3 linked regions of the Homo sapiens genome follow. The protein of the gene in region 3 purifies or fractionates together with the protein of the main gene of each other region. This does not show direct contact. Each region holds a gene or a part of one and is shown on either strand. Other genes may lie near its edges. The genes, in order: TTYH1, STX1B and SNAP25.

Region 1 (3,653 bases), on a different chromosome or scaffold from region 3:
ACCCGGAAAGTCCAGAGACTTTCAGATTTCAGCCCTGGCACTGTCTCCCATTCTCAGAGGAGACAGGGCAGAGCCAGAGGCTGATCAGGCTGTGGGTGGACTTGGGGGAGCCTTCGGGGGAAGTGAGCCCAGAGGTGAGCAGTCACCGTCCCAGGGTCCTGGAGCTGGGATCCAAGCTGCGACCACCCAGCCCAGGGCCCTGCTCATACCCCACACCCTGCTCATCTGGGCAGGAGCCAGATGTCCAGCTGGACATCAGCAGCCACTGGCCTACCCCCAACCACTGAACTTGTGTTTCCCTAATTCTGATCCTCCAGGCTCCAGAGGTGGGTGGAGGTGGGGGGCGGCTGTGATGGGATTTGGGGTGTGGAAAGAGGCTAGGCTAGGAGATTAAGAACCCCGGGCTGATCCTCCCTCCCCCACTCTAGGATGACAGTCATGAGTCTCCTGGTTCTCGTCCTGAGCTGGGGCTCCATGGGCCTGGAGGCAGCCACGGCCGTGGTGAGTGCCAGGGCCGGGCCATTGGGCTCTGGGACTCAGGGGGCCTGGAGACTTCAACTTCTGGATCTCGGGATGGCATGGCTTAGTAGAGAAAGGAATTGGGGGGCACGATCACAGCTCTGAGGTTTAGGGCTTGTTTCCTGGGGCCTGAGTGGGTACAGATTGGTGTCCTGGACGTTTGAGCTGTAATGGAGGAGGGGCTGGAAACCTGGATTCCTAGGTCTGAGGGAGGAGGGGCTGGGGGTCTGGACTCCTGGGTGTGAGGGAGGAGAAGCTGGGGGCCTGGACTCCTGAGTCTGAGGGAGAAAGGGCTGGAGAGTCTGAACCCCTGAGTCTGAGGGACGAGGGGCCTGGGGCCTGGACTCCTGAGTCTGAGGGAAGAGGGGCTGGGACCTGGACCCCTGGGTGGGGAGGGGAGCTGGGGAGCCAGGCACTGGGTGCTGTGGGAGTGTGGAATCGGGGCAGTTTTGGGTTTGAGCCCCTTTTCTGCTGCCTCACGCAGGGCCTCAGTGACTTCTGCTCCAATCCAGACCCTTATGTTCTGAACCTGACCCAGGAGGAGACAGGGCTCAGCTCAGGTGATTTCCAAGGGCCCGGTGGGTCCGCCGGGTTGGGCAGTGCAGGCCCTGGCTTCCTCAGGCCTCCTCTGTGCCCGGTCCTGCCCAGGGTGGGGTGGGGGTGCAGCCTGCCAGGCGAGACCCAGCCCTCTGGAAGGGAAGCAGGGCTCCTGGCCACTCCCCAGCTCGGAGCCCTCCTGGAGCCCCGCCACCCGCCAGACCCTCATCCCTTCTGCTCCAGCTGGCAGCGCCTCTCCTGGTGGGCTGGAAAAGAGGGCAGGATAAAGATAATGGTGCCAGGAAGAGAGAGGAGGGTCAGGAGAGGGTGCTCCTGGGCGTCAGGAATGGGGAGTTTGGCCCCCTGGAGAAAACTGGGGAGCACCATTTAGTCAGGGGTTCCCAGGGAGTATAGGGTTGCCCACCAGCGCCTGCTCTGGCTGTGGCAGGAGCAGAAGGGACGCGGGGCTGGCGGGTCTCTGAAGGTAAGGCCATCGGGCTCCAGGGCTGGGCTGAGGCCCCTAACCCTGCTAACCCCCCAGTGCCCGGCCTTCCCCCGGGAGATCCCTGGGGGCCCAGGCTCATGGCCTCCTCCCCTCTCCTCCTCCCACTTCAGACATCCTGAGCTATTATCTCCTCTGCAACCGGGCCGTCTCCAACCCCTTCCAACAGGTTAGGGCTGCGGGCAGGGGAAACGGGTGTTGAGGGAGCCAGAAATCTGGACTCTGAAGGGAGGGGGCGGGGCTGGGGCTGGGGCCTGGACTCCTGGGTTCCGGGGAGGATGCAGGCCAGGGGCCCGAGTGCTGTGTCCGGAGGAGAGGAGAGAGGGCCGGGGGCGTATACTCCTGGGTCCTCCTCCCTCCCTTTCTCTTTCTGCAGAGGCTGACTCTGTCCCAGCGAGCTCTGGCCAACATCCACTCCCAGCTGCTGGGCCTGGAGCGAGAAGCTGTGCCTCAGTTCCCTTCAGCGCAGGTCGGTGGGTGGGCGCTCCCCAGACACGCGGACCCCACGGGGAAGGCGGACGGGGCGGGATGGAGCTGTGGGGCGTAGGCGGGGCTGCAGAGCTAGGCGGGGCCTTGGGTTGTGGGCGGGGACGCAGGGCGGGGCCAGGGCGATGGGCGGGCCTGAAGAGTTCGTGGGAAAACGACCCCTCCTCGCCCCGCAGAAGCCTCTGCTGTCCTTGGAGGAGACTCTGAATGTGACAGAAGGAAATTTCCACCAGTTGGTGGCACTGCTACACTGCCGCAGCCTGCACAAGGTGAAGCCCCTCCCCTCCCAATTTCTTCTCCCACGGGGGGCCTCTGTCTCGACCCACAGAACTACCTCCTCCTTCTCCTTGGACCCCTGCCATTGCGCCTGAGGATATCTCTGTATCCTCTGTTTATATGATTTATCTGTCCTATATCTATTCTCTACCTATTTATAACCTGTCGTCTACCTACCTATCAAGCATTATCCATATTCCTTCCCTCCTCCCTCCCTTTCCCCCCAACTCCCGCACTCCCCGCTGGGTCCCCATCCCACCCTCCCCGTCCCTTCCTGCCACCTTTTCCTTCCTTGTCTTCTCTCCTCTCTCCGTCCTCCTGCCTCTCCCTCCCTCCTAGAGGCTGCCGCTTAGTGAGTTCTGGAGCAAGACTGCCTGGGTTCCAGTCCTACCTCCTGACCAAGGGCAAGTCACCTAACTTCTCTGTACCTCAGTTAGTTCCCTCACTTATAAACCTGGGATTGCAAGAGTGGGCACCTGTCCAGCTCCCCTGCGGCTTGTGCTGTTCATACACTGGACAGGCAGGGGTGGGCAGGGTGCCCAGGAGGAAAGATATCTGGTGTCCTGCAGGCTCCAGTTTGGGCTCTGCCGCAGGCTGCACGGCCATAGGCAGGTGAGCGTGGCTGACTCTGCTTCCCACCCGTACCGTGAGGAAGGACGAGTTTTTTTTGTTTGTTTTTTTTTCACTGGATGGCTGTGAGGATTGAAAAAAAAAATCCCCTTATAAAACAGTAGGAGCTGGCCGGGCGCGGAGGCTCACACCTGTAATCCCAGCACTTTGGGAGGCCCAGGCGGGTGGATCACCTGAGGTCAGGAGTTCAAGACCAGTCTGGCCAACATGGTGATACCCCGTCTCTACTAAAAATAGAAAAAGTTAGCCGGGCATGGTGGTGGGCGCCTATAATCCCAACTACTCGGGAGGCTGAGGCAGGAGAATCGCTTGAATCCACGAGGCAGAGGTTGCAGTGAGCCAAGATTGTGCCACTGCACTCCAGCCTGGGCAACAAGAGCGAAACTCTGTCACAAACAAACAAACAAAACCAGTAAGAGCTGTTCTAAAACACACACCCGAGGATGCCTTTCCCCGGCCAGTCTTCCCATCAAAGACCTCACATGTGCATAGCTTCACCAAGTACCTGACCCTGTTGCATTTCACAGGTGGTAACTCATCGATGCCTCATAACAATGCTATGAAGAAGGAACTATGATTATCCCACCTAACAGGTTAGAAGATGAGGAGCAGAGTTGAGGGACCTTCCCAAGGTCACACGGCCAGCCAGCCCATGCACACTGAGGAGAGAGGGACCTTCCGGAGGGCCCCGCCCTCTGCCCCC
Region 2 (2,594 bases), on a different chromosome or scaffold from region 3:
CTTCTGACCTCAGGTGATCTACACACCTCCCAAAGTGCTGGGATTACAGGTGTGAGCCATCGTGCCTGACCAATGTGTACATATTAACTCACTCAGTCTTCACAACCACCCTGTGAGGTGGGCAGTGTTATGATCCACATTTTCTAGGTGGGGAAACTGAGGCCAAGAGCAGGTGAATAATGTGCCTAAGGTTTCAGCTAGTAAATGACACCGGATTTGACCCTGGCCACTCCACTGCGGTGGAGGCGCTCATGGCGGAGAAGGGTGATTGTAGCTCTCTCCCTCGTCACCCTAGATCAAAATGGACTCACAGATGACGAAGCAGGCGCTGAATGAGATTGAGACGAGGCACAATGAGATCATCAAGCTGGAGACCAGCATCCGCGAGCTGCACGATATGTTTGTGGACATGGCCATGCTCGTAGAGAGCCAGGTACTGGCTCTGCCACCCATGCCACTCTGGGAGCCTCCCTGGGCCTGAGGTCCCCTCTTCCAGCCCAGCCCCCATCCCTCCCTGTGCATGTCTCCTCTGTCTGCAGGGAGAGATGATTGACCGCATCGAGTACAACGTGGAACATTCTGTGGACTACGTGGAGCGAGCTGTGTCTGACACCAAGAAAGCAGTGAAATATCAGAGCAAGGCCCGGAGGGTGAGCGGGGCAGGCGGCCTGGGGGTAGGCGGGGGAGCCCAAGGCTGAGCCCGGGCTGAGGTGAGTGATGGCAGCGGGCGGGAGGCCTTATCTCTGGCTCTGACCTCTTCCTGTTTCTGTTTTCTCTCCCCTCTTCTCCCTGCCACCCTCTGCCCTGTCTGTCCCTGCATCTGTCCGTGTGTCGATCTCTCTCACTGTCTGCCTGTCTCACTCCTCTTTCTGCTGCAGAAGAAAATCATGATCATCATTTGCTGTGTGGTGCTGGGGGTGGTCTTGGCGTCATCCATTGGGGGGACGCTGGGCTTGTAGGCCCCCCCCACCCTTCTCTCTCCCAGACCCTTCCCCCACCACATCGGGAGCAATACCCCCACCACCCCTTTCACTCCATCCCCTGCTCCAGGCTCACTCCCAAAACAGACCCAGGCAGCCCCACCCCCACGGCAGACCCTGGTGTCCCTGGACCTCACCGGGCCATGGACCCCCCCCCCGTCCCCGCACGTAGATCGCAGCAGGCGTGATTACACATGCACACCAACATGCATGCCGCCGGCACATGCTCGAGACGTGTGGACACCCCAGCGTGCGTGTGCGTGTGATGTGTGTGATGCACCAGAGCACCCCCTCCACCCCCACCTTGGGTGTGTGTGCGTGGTCTGAGCTTCCCCCTTCACCGGGGCTGTTGTGTAGACTGCAGCCAAGTGTAACACAGCAGTCCATCACGCCCTCTCTGTCCTCTGTGAACAGTGTGTGTGCGTGCGTGAGACCACAGATCTGTGGACACACCATTTGTGTACGTGGAATTTTGTGTTTCAGTGTTTGAACCTAATGCAACAGCAACAAAGCCACTGATACCTGAGCCCTTTGTGTCTGCTACAAACCAGGCAGGTGGTGTGTGTGGACTCACACTCACATTCTCAGAGGATCCAGGGAGGCCCAGGTACACACAGGCCATGGCAGACACCCCATGTCTTTGTTACCCCAGGGGCTGTGGCATGTCCCAGGAGGGTGTGCATGTGTGTGTGTGTGTGTGTGTGTGTGTCCAGGATGTGCCTGAAGTATTGATAGGTCTTCTCAGATAGAGCCCTCCACACTGTGGACTGGACACCTGTTTTGGGAGGGCACAGAAATGTGTATTTCTTGCTACCTAGAATGCAGCTGTGTGTGTGTGGCGTGCGTGTGTATGCACGTGTGTGTGTGTGTTAGGGGCTCTCTACATGGTGTGCTTTTTAATTTTTTTTTGTTTTTTGTTTTTTGTTTTTTTCGAGACGGAGTCTTGCTCTGTCACCCAGGCTGGAGTGCAGTGGCGCAATCTCAGCTCACTGCAACCTGTGCCTCCCTGACGCAAGCGATTCTCATGCCTCAGCCTCCCAAGTAGCTGGGACTACAGGCGCCTGCCACCACGCCTGGCTAATTTTAGAATTTTAGTAGAGATGAGGTTTTGACATGTTGGCCAGGCTGGTCTCGAACTCCTGACCTCAGGTGATCCGCCCACTTTGGCCTCCCTAAGTGCTGGCATTACAGGCCTGAGCCACCACGCCTGGCCTACATGATGTGTTTCTGTCCTGCCTGACCTACATGGTGTGTTTCTGCCCTGCGTATTACACACACACACACACACGTGCGTGCACACACACTTCTAAGGACGTGGCCCCATCTGGCTTTGTCTCTCCAGTTGTCCTTGCCCTGCCCCCCTCCCCAGAGGTGCTGCCCAGTGCTGGTGTGGCCACACACGGCTACATCATTGTGCAGGCAGAGCTCCCTGCCTGCCCAGCCTCAGGGCTCTGCATGCTCACACCTAGATCCTCATCTTCCTCCATGTCTCTGCCCAGCATAGCCCCGAGCCCCTGGAAGCTGGTACCCCTCAGTGTGCTCACACGTGGCAAGGCCGAGGTGGCCCCAGGCAGGGGCCATACCAGGCACAAACCATGCACGCTGGCATGGGTG
Region 3 (3,653 bases):
CTCCCCATCTCCTCCCTCCTCAGATTAAAAGAAGTTATATGGACTTTGTGATGTTTTCTGCTATGTCAAATGTCTGCTATACCATCTTTGGCAAAGTCAAAGGAGTGGGAAGTATGCGTTTCTGAAAGAAGGCAAACCACTGCACCCACAATGCTGCACATAGACTCACATCACTGCCGTACATCTACCATCGTCCCTTGAAACATGCCGAGACAGGGCGAAGCCCTCAGAGAGTCCAGGGCACCACCAGCCACTGCGTTGTGACACATGGTTTTTAAAGCATTATTTACACACAATAGGGAACACCTCAGTCAAGCTTTGAAGCTTAGTTTAGGGTCTCTTGTGCATTAAGGAAATTAGTGACCACTCAAAAGTGGAATTCGTAGGAGCCATCATTTCATTAGAACATCAGAATCCATCCCAGGGGACCCTGCCTTCACCCTTTCTTCACACACAGTTGATGAAGGGGGGAAAATGTATCTGTTGGAATTTATCATGAAATGGATGGAAATCTCACCTGGGGGCAAGTTGCCACTGAAAGGAATATACAGTCAAATCTTGACTAACTGGAATGCTTGGTAATGAGGCTTTTTTTTTTTTTTTCTGATGAATTATATGACTTTCTTAATGAACAGTGGGGCCATGGAGGAAAGTTTTGTTTCATGGATGATGAGTGAATATCTTTGCTAGACTCCTGAGCCACTTTCCTGCCTGAAAGTCTTAAGGTAGAAGACCTGATTGAATCTTTCCTTGGTTATCATTTATACTGATTGCTTGATGGCCTTTTCTGTGAAGATCAACTCTTATTGTTTGGTCCTCATAGATGTGGAAGTTGCAGGAGGATGGAGACTAAGTGAGACAATGCAAACTACCCTGGAAGAAAAACCATTTTACATTTCTGATGTGATTTTTTTTCTTTGTTTCTTTTTTGCTAAAAATGGAAGGGAGCAAGAGCATGCAGCTGAGGTTTCCAGTTAGCTAGATTCCAGTTAATCAGGCTTTACTGTAGATCACTCTTTAAAAAGCAGAATTTTTTAATTTTTTTGCAATATGAGCCCCTCCCCCTCCTAAACAGGAAGTGGGATATTTTAAATCAGCCTCAAAGTTTAAAGGATGTGAATGGTCATATAATCTGCTAAAAATGACGTCAATTTCTATTCTAAAAGCTAGGATCAGGAGAGCTTTTAGGAAAAAGTCTTCTTTTAGAAGGGGGAAGTGGGAGGGGTGAGGGAGATTGGATAAGGAGTTTAATTTTCCAAATGCATGTTGGGCAATCCACTCATGCATTTCTTTTTCCACCACTAGTCAAATGAGACAATCTTCCAGAACCCTCAGTTTTAGGTTCCTTCCATTGCAAACCTTTATAACCACATGTCACATTTCTGCTACATTCCAAAAAAGCGTTGCAGAACCTTGAGAACAGTTGAATGTTTTGTGATGTTGTGCATGCAAAATCTACACATTTCAACATTTCAGCCAGTGTACGGGTAGATCTTCCAAGGAGAAAAATTTGGGAGGGATGGGTCCAATTTGAGTAAGGCTTGAGCACTTCTTGCTGAAGAGCTCATTGCCTCTGTGTTGGGTGCAGTGGCAGCATCTATTGACAAAATTTGGCAACTGGTGGGCAGTAGAAAGGGAGAATCTCTGTCATATTCTCTAATTTATAGAATCCTTCCCTGGGCCAAATTACCTGTCTCTTTTATTTTGGAAAAAATCAAACCTTCGCATATGTGTTTCTCATCTTCCAAACTTACCCGCAGCCTTTTCTAAATCTGTAATTTTGACTCTTGGGGTTGGGGAAAAGGAAGTTCCCTGGGTGCCTCTTTCTTGAGGCTAGCCTCTGTCTCAAGGTACACTTTCTGGAAAATGTTGAAACGTTCATCAATAAAAGTTGCTGACAGTGAAGCTTTCACTGTAGTATGCCTGATTTTTAATGCATCAACAGTAACTCCTGCTAATATCATCTATGCTATGAGATGAATGCATTGGAGACGGTATTGATCTGTTCTGCATGCCACATGCTCATCCTGCCTATGAGCTTGGCAGGAATGAGCTTGTCAAGGCTTGGAGATGGGCCTTGGGAAATCAAAGCTTCAGGCAGGCAGGCAGCACCTACTTGTTACAGGGACACACACAAAGCCCGCAGAATTTTCCTAGGTCCGTCAAATTCTTTTCTGCTTCTTTCATGTCCTTATTGATTTGGTCCATCCCTTCCTCAATGCGTTCCAGTTGTTCTGATTAAACACAAGTATTTTATCCCCACAGAATGAAGCAGATGGAAAAGGACAAAGAAAAAAAGACAAAACTTCAGACATTCACTTTGACATTAAAAAAGAAAAAAAAAAAAAGAAAGAAAACTGGACGCCACAGATTAGAGCTGGTACCCAGTACCTACTTGTTACAAGGACATATGAAAAGGCCACAGCATTTCCCTAAATCTTTTAAATTTTTCTCAGCCTCCTTCATGTCTTGGTTGATATGGTTCATGCCTTCTTCGACACGATCGAGTTGTTCTGGTTAGGACAAAGGGATGACAGTGTGGAATGAATTTTTTGGGGGTCTCCAACAGAACATGAGAAATGACTATGTGAAACAGAATTTGAAAGAGAGATATTACAATGCATTGTCCAAGAGGATGCATTGTTGAAGACTGCTACCGCTGCCCTACACAGGTATGGGTGGAAAGAAACAAACCAAACGATGCTCAAAATACTTTGTAATTCAACATGATGGGATGGGGTGGAAGGCCTGTTTGATTCTGAGTGTCCAGGAAAACAGCACAGCATATTCGCTTACTCAGGCACCAGTGAAATCCAGGAGAAAAAAAAACAGGGTGTTAGTTTATGTTTTAGGCATTCCAGTTTAACGCTACTAAGGAAAGGATCTGCTTCAACTTTAAAATATCTCCATCTTTTGGTTTTTAAGCATCCTCAACCAGATAAGGGTAGAAAATAGAATCCATTTTCTTCTTTGGAGACAACAGCAGCAGCAGCAATCATAAGCAATGGGTATGGATGTCTTTTCTTCCCCTAGCAGTGGCAGTCTAGCCAGAGGTAGCCATGGTCTGCACTTGATTGTGCATATGTAATTCGTAAAAGCTGTTTTTTAAAAAAAGAGTAACATCCACACAGCAACATTGTAAGTCCTGGAACATTGCAATTCCTCTATCATCCTATGACTTAATTGCTATGAATGTTTTGGAAGGCATTTCACTTCTCTGCCCCCTGATTTCCAAGTCTATAATGGGGGTCATGCTCCAAGCCCAGGCAGAGAGCAGGGAGAATGAATGTCTCTTTGGAAGTAGGATTATGAATTGGAACATAGGACAATATGGTGTCACTGCTGCCAGCATAGCTGACCTTAGTGTATCTAAGTACATAGATCAATAGTCATAAAAATGAATCATACTTCTAGGTTGCCAAGGTTACATACACCAACTTGATTAATTTTTTTGAATTGTATCACCAAATTGAGATAACTACAAGTTCAATGAAAGGATTTTTAAAACAGCTTTAAAAGACCATTAAAGGAAGGCAGCAATGGATGTCTTCGCTGGCTAATTACAAAACCTAATTACATTTCCATTCCTCTTTTCATCTGTATTTTCATGCATGCATGCCTGTGCCTCCTGGAATAAAGGCATGCCTAGAATA

The links.
Region 1: the proteins of SNAP25 (region 3) and TTYH1 purify together in Homo sapiens (co-immunoprecipitation; one study listed by IntAct). This does not show direct contact.
Region 2: the proteins of SNAP25 (region 3) and STX1B purify together in Homo sapiens (co-immunoprecipitation; one study listed by IntAct). This does not show direct contact.

The regions. Positions count from the first base shown.
Region 1 is NC_000019.10:54,428,879-54,432,531, forward strand, and holds part of TTYH1 (protein tweety homolog 1), read left to right. Parts: intron 1-428; coding exon 429-501; intron 502-1,003; coding exon 1,004-1,079; intron 1,080-1,671; coding exon 1,672-1,727; intron 1,728-1,934; coding exon 1,935-2,027; intron 2,028-2,220; coding exon 2,221-2,313; intron 2,314-3,653. UniProt on the Homo sapiens protein: Calcium-independent, swelling-dependent volume-regulated anion channel (VRAC-swell) which plays a pivotal role in the process of regulatory volume decrease (RVD) in the brain through the efflux of anions like chloride and organic osmolytes like glutamate.
Region 2 is NC_000016.10:30,991,186-30,993,779, reverse strand, and holds part of STX1B (syntaxin-1B), read left to right. Parts: intron 1-295; coding exon 296-433; intron 434-539; coding exon 540-650; intron 651-878; coding exon 879-959; 3' UTR 960-2,594. UniProt on the Homo sapiens protein: Potentially involved in docking of synaptic vesicles at presynaptic active zones. May mediate Ca(2+)-regulation of exocytosis acrosomal reaction in sperm.
Region 3 is NC_000020.11:10,291,742-10,295,394, reverse strand, and holds part of SNAP25 (synaptosomal-associated protein 25), read right to left. Parts: intron 2,514-3,653; coding exon of another isoform or gene 2,396-2,513; intron 2,235-2,395; coding exon 2,117-2,234; intron 1-2,116.